Regions from separate parts of the Homo sapiens genome. Here region 1 is linked to region 2. Evidence: fine-mapped expression QTL. A gene starts in region 2. The other region holds a variant in brackets. All regions are shown on one strand. Distances are between the middles of the regions.

Region 1 (2,929 bases), 440 kb after region 2:
GTGACTCAGTCATCTCTTGAAGGCCCCACCTCTCAATACTGTTAAGTTTTAGCATGAGTTTTGGAGGAGACATTCAAACTATAGCAATACTAATATTCTTATCACATTTCAATAACCCAGTAGAGTTTATGACACGTAGTGGCTACTAGTGAGTGAATGAAGGAAAAAAGAAAGAGGGAGGCAGGGAGGAAAGGGAGGAGAAGAAATCTATATTCTAAATCTACAAAATGTATGGGATGCTTTGCTAACAATAAGGTAGTATACACAAAATGGCTCAGTGTAGCCATCAGCACTCAACTAGTCTGACTGAAACCAGAAATGGATTTTAGTGCCTGCAGAAAAGAATAGATTAAATATCTCACAGGCAATCTTTACTATAAACTGTTTCTCTCCATCAGATAGCTGATAAGGATTGAGGGTCAGTAATTTCATGTTATAGTCCTGTATACCTCCACATTCTTGATTCAGTGGCTTGATGCAATAGATATTTACTTCTCATTCACATAAAAATTGATTCAGGTGTAGGGGTAGCTCTCCTCCATGTGGTGATACAGGAAGCCTCTGAATCACCTCTGTATCGTGGCTCTGTTATATATGACTACAAAAGGCATCCACATCAAGTGGCAGAGAGTAGAGAAGGCCCATCTACTTCGTAATTACCTTGGCTCGAAAATGACTCAGATTACATACACTCAAATTCCATTGGTAAGGGGTTCCACCTTGTTGCAAGGGGCCTGAAAATTGCAGTCCTGGGTAAGACAGCCTCTTCCTGGTAACATCCTTCCTCTAAGAAGCACAAGCACAGAACCCTGGAAGGCAGCTACCTTTTTCCCTCACTATTCTTATATCTGGCCACCAAATATCTGTGCCTACTTTTCCCAAAAAGAGACAGCCCTAAGTTCTACCCTTCAAGCATCTACCTCACAGTCTAGGATCTCCAGGTCATGAATAGTTTCTCCATCAGGTCTGTATTAGTTTGTTTTCACGCTGCTGATAAAGACACACCAGAGACTGGGCAATTTACAAAAAAAAAAAAAAAAAAAAAAACAAAAAAAAAGAGGTTTGTTGGACTTACAGTTCCATGTGGCTGGGGAAGCTTCACAATCATGGTGGAAAGTGAAAGCCATGTCTCACATTATGGCAGACAAGGAGAGAGTTTGTGCAGGGGCTCTCATTTTTAAAACAATCAGATCTCCTGAGGCTCATTCACTATCACAAGAACAGTGCAGGAAAGACCCGACCCCATAATTCAATCA[C/A]CATTCACCAGGTTTCTCCCATGATACATGGGAATTGTGGGAGTTACATATCAAGATGATATTTGGGTGGGGACACAGCCAAACCATATCAGGGTCTAAATGAGATTCCTCCTCATATTCTGACCTTCCTATAAACCACAACATGAGTCATCTATCCCTCACCGCATCCCAAATACAAAACACATAGGTGTTGTGTCAGGAGCAGAATAACTGCAATTTTAAAACTCCCTTTCAGAGAAGGGAAGAAAGGAAAAGAAGCAGTGATCACCATTTCCTAACAAAGTGAGATCCTGCCAGGCAGGCATTGTAAATATCCCCACTTGGGAGAAGCCCTTGGTCCCTTTCCTCCATGGCCCTGTCTCTACAGCCTCGACAGGTTTTCTTTTTCATCATCCTCTATGGCCTCATCTGAAGGGAGTGTCAGGCAGTGTGCCCACCTTGGAGCTCCATAGCTCTCATAACCTACTTCTTTATACAAATTTGGAAGTCCAAGGGTTGCTGTAGCCTCAAACAGTGAAATACGTTTTTTAAAAAAATCAGTGCTAGTCTTTTGGGTAAAATAGTTCTCTCAAGTACTCAGACAGTCCCTAGTCTTTCTTTCTCCCATAAGTTATACCTACCAGTGATCACATCCAATGTAATTCCCTAGAGTCCTCAAGTCTTCTTCTTTTTCTCTGTCACTCTCGTGTGACAAGCATTATTTTCTCACATTGTCCAGGTGAAGTCACAATACCTCACCTAACTGAAGGGACCCTGGGAATTGTAGCTCTTGGCTGAGCTTTCCAGTAACAATGCTACACCATGTAAGGAAGTACAAATCTTGGGTGAATAGTTAACCATTGTACTATAGCTCCCTAAGAATATTTGGAGGAATATGGGTATTCTATATGCATGTAATATAAAATGCTGCTGCTAGCTCTTCTTTTAAATACAGTGGCTCTCAGGGCCAAGTGTGGTGGCTTATGTGTGTAATCTCAGCACTTTGGGAGGCCAAGTCAGGAGTATTACTTAAGGCCAGGAGTTTTAGACCAGCCTGGGCAACACAGCGAGACCTTGTTTCTACAAAATATATATATATATATATATATATATATATATATATATATAAAATAAATTAATAAATAAATACAGTGGATCTGGATTTAAATCCCAGCTTCTCCGTTTATAACTTCTATGATCTCAAGCACTTCTCTATTCCTTCTGAATGCCACATTTTGTTATCTACAAAATATTGGTAGCTGTACTTACTTCACAGGATTGTTTAATTAAATTACATATTTATTTAACTGATCAATGATGGTTGAGTAATTCAAAAAGAATATGGACAGTTATCTTGAGAATAGAGCCCATATCTGTGTTCAGTTTTTGTTATAACCCAAAGATAATTAAACAAAACTTAGACATGCTGATATTTACATCTCTAAGACATTTCATACATTATAAACTTTGCATTTTGAGCATTTTATTTTCTTTGCTGCAGAATTAGCTGGTTTACTGTGACATCTGCTTAGCAGATTATGTATAGTACCTTTTCTATTTCTGCCATTTTTATTTTTGCATTTTGGGAAAGTGATAACGACCACTCCAATTTAGTTGGAAGAAAGCCTTCTGATTGCACAGTGTTTGATCCAAATTTGTGTAGTGGTAGGACGTGCACTTTTGTAGAATTCAGC
Region 2 (2,929 bases):
AGTGTTTAAGAATGTACTCTTGAGCCAAATCATTTGGGCTTGAAATCTGCTCTGTCTTTTACTACCACACAACCTTGTGCACGTTCTTTAATCTTCCTGTCTCCTCTCACATTCCCCATCTGTGAAACAGAGATAATAATAATACTTATCTTGTGGGGTTGGTAAAAAGAATTAAATTAGACTTTACAAGACATACTATAGAATGTGCTAGCATCTGGTGAAGGTTTGATAAACATTACCTGCTGCCACTGCTGTTATTATTTTTTTATCTTGATGCTGTACAGTCAGTGTAAACTTTCTGTACACACTCATGAACAATAATAATGAGGCACAGATGTGAAACATGCAACACCAACTAGAACTTTGACATTTTTAACTGTGAGATTAATATTTACTATTACTTAGAAATCTGTTTAGAGGTAAGATTTAGAGAACAGTTGTTATGTTACAAAGAGCTATTATGTGTGTTTTGTGCAATGTGAAAGACCAATTGGCAAGACTGACGAGTCTGAAGGATCCCTAACTCTCTCACTGTGTGTAACATGAGAAAACAGAATCACTTGCAAAGATGTGCAGCAGCATTGGACCTTCTTTATTGTGCCTCTGAAAGGCAAGAGAGTATTCTGGGGAATTTCAAAATGTTTCCAAGGAAGCAATATTATGAGAACTACCTTGATTTTGAAAACACCATAAAAGATTAGACAGTATCATCTATAACAGTGGGGATCTCATCAATCACGTTTTCTGCTTTGTTCCCAGGCACCTAACACATAGTAGGTGCTTTATAAGTGATTTGTGAAATAACTGAGGGTATTTCAGAGAATTATTACCAGCACAATCTATAAATGAAAACTAGGTCATCTTGTATTCATCATTGAAATTTAGGCAAAATTATACTATATTTCTGAAGAAGAAAGGGTTCAAACCGTAGTAAGAGGAAGAAGATGTTGAACTTCTGAGTGTTTTCCCTCCCCACCCCAGCATGTTATTTGAAGGAGAGGAAAAATTTTTTAAAAAAGAGCTGTGAGCATATTTCTTCATTTGATGCTGAAAATAACATATTTTTATTTATTAAACATGTTCAAAAAGTTCAGAAGGTTTTTATTGGACTTATGCATATACGCATCTATGTCCTATTCCAGGTAAATTCTAGTCTATTTAACTGCTGAAACAACCAGCAGACTTAAATTAGTATAAACCTGACAATATTTGTGGTTAATTTACTGGTAAAAAGAACATTAAGAGGTAAGAAATGGCTTATATTTCACTTTCCCATTTACTGTTAGAAGTCTAACTCCCACTAATACTATCAGTATTTTGCAGAATGCTTTTTTCTTGTTTCTCCTTCCCTCTTTACTCTTTTGTTAAATCAGTGGTATCAGTAGGACTTCTAATGTAATAAATCAGGCAATATAATGTTAAAGCGCTGCTTGAGTTGTTGAAGAGTTAGTAGGCAGATATTACAATTCACTGTAGCTGTAATAGAGGGTAATGTCACTTTAAGACATGTGATACTTTAGAGCGGAGGGATGTATTGAAACAGACTACTGCTACTTACAGCACCGTATAGCAGCCCTGCTCCTACATTTTGCTGCCTTACTCTGCCCCGAATGCACTGGAGTGGGGATGGTCCATCGGCAACTATAAACTGATTCTCATCAGGAAACTGCACATTATCTCCCCATCACTTCAAAGGTCTCGTCAGGCAGAGGTGACGCCAGGAGATGATTTAAAGGTGAAAATGACAAGGTTTCCACCCCTCAAACCTTGGCTCCTTTTCTGACAATACAGTCTGAATGAACCCGATGTCTTTTTTTTTACTGTGGAAATAGGATCGGAAGAGAGTAACATTTTTTTTTTTTTAATCCTGATAAAGAAGATTGTTGGGAAGCTCTTTGAAAAAAAATTTTAAATTGTGGCACAGATGGATTTTAAAAAGTGTTAGATCTTTCCAATGAACACTAATAGAGTACTCTGCTCTTGGCTGGATTTTTCAGGTAAGAAGCATCTTTAAGGGTTTAAGATTCAGAAAGCAGATCTGAAACATATCCAGGCATATCTAGAGAACTGTGCAAGGCTGAATGCTTTATTTGGGGAAGACGCTTAATAACATTGAGACAACCCCTTGGTAAAGGAGCAAGCAGTGAGAGTGACATGCAGGAGGCTTGGAAGTAATGCTGAGAATTTAAAAAAGTTAAATTAAAAAAATATATATTGCAAGCATAAAATCACAGTAATCCTTTTGAGTGGTAGGATCTATATGGGTGAAGAAATGAGCAAGAGAAAGCAGTCATTGAAAAACTATTAAGTTTTGGTTGTGGCAGGATTTTTTTTTCAAGTTTGGATGAATTTCCAGTACATTTTAACTGCAATTCACAAGCAGTAAATACATCCACAGTCACCTCTGTTTTGTCTTTCTGTAATTTGCAGGGTATTCTGAAAAAGTCCCCAAATACATTCATTTTAGGTTTCACAGGAGGGGTGTTGCTGTTTATTTCCACTGAAGAGAATGCATGTATGTTATCCCAATAGTTCTGAAAACAATAAGGCAAAGTATGTTGTATACAAAAGTAAACAGTGGGCAGTGAAACTAATTAGAAAGTGAATGCTCCATCTGAATCACAGACTTAGGCATGAATAGCACCAAGCTGTTGAAAATAATGTTTTCCTGCTTTGCACTTAATTATAGTTGTCACCATTTGTCTATTATAGTCCTAAAATCCTTCCAAGACTGCATCTCTCTGCTAAAATCCACAAATTAGCGTGCATTATGTGCATACATATGATGTATATTTTTGTTTTCTGAACATCAGTTTTTAATAAAGAACCAATTTTCATGAATAAAGAAGCCAGGCTGGGAGGTTACTAGCACGTTTTCAACGTATAGTTGAGATTTTTGAAGGGTATGATTTGACAGTGAAAAGGAAAA

What was found. PIP is the estimated chance that this variant, and not a neighbour inherited with it, causes the effect. A credible set is the group of variants that fine-mapping cannot tell apart.
Region 1: its variant is the best candidate, but not a certain one, in a credible set for the expression of TAFA1 in ileum (GTEx, PIP 0.53).

Annotation. Positions count from the first base shown.
Region 1 is chr3:68,442,450-68,445,378 of GRCh38, forward strand. All of the region lies in intron 3 of TAFA1 (TAFA chemokine like family member 1), which reads left to right. Among named protein-coding and RNA genes, the nearest start is that of TAFA1, 440 kb to the left of the region's middle. The variant C/A (reference allele first, on the strand shown) is at 1,257.
Region 2 is chr3:68,002,706-68,005,634 of GRCh38, forward strand. It overlaps TAFA1 (TAFA chemokine like family member 1), which reads left to right and starts at 1,542. Exons shown (of 5, transcript NM_213609.4): 1 at 1,542-1,997.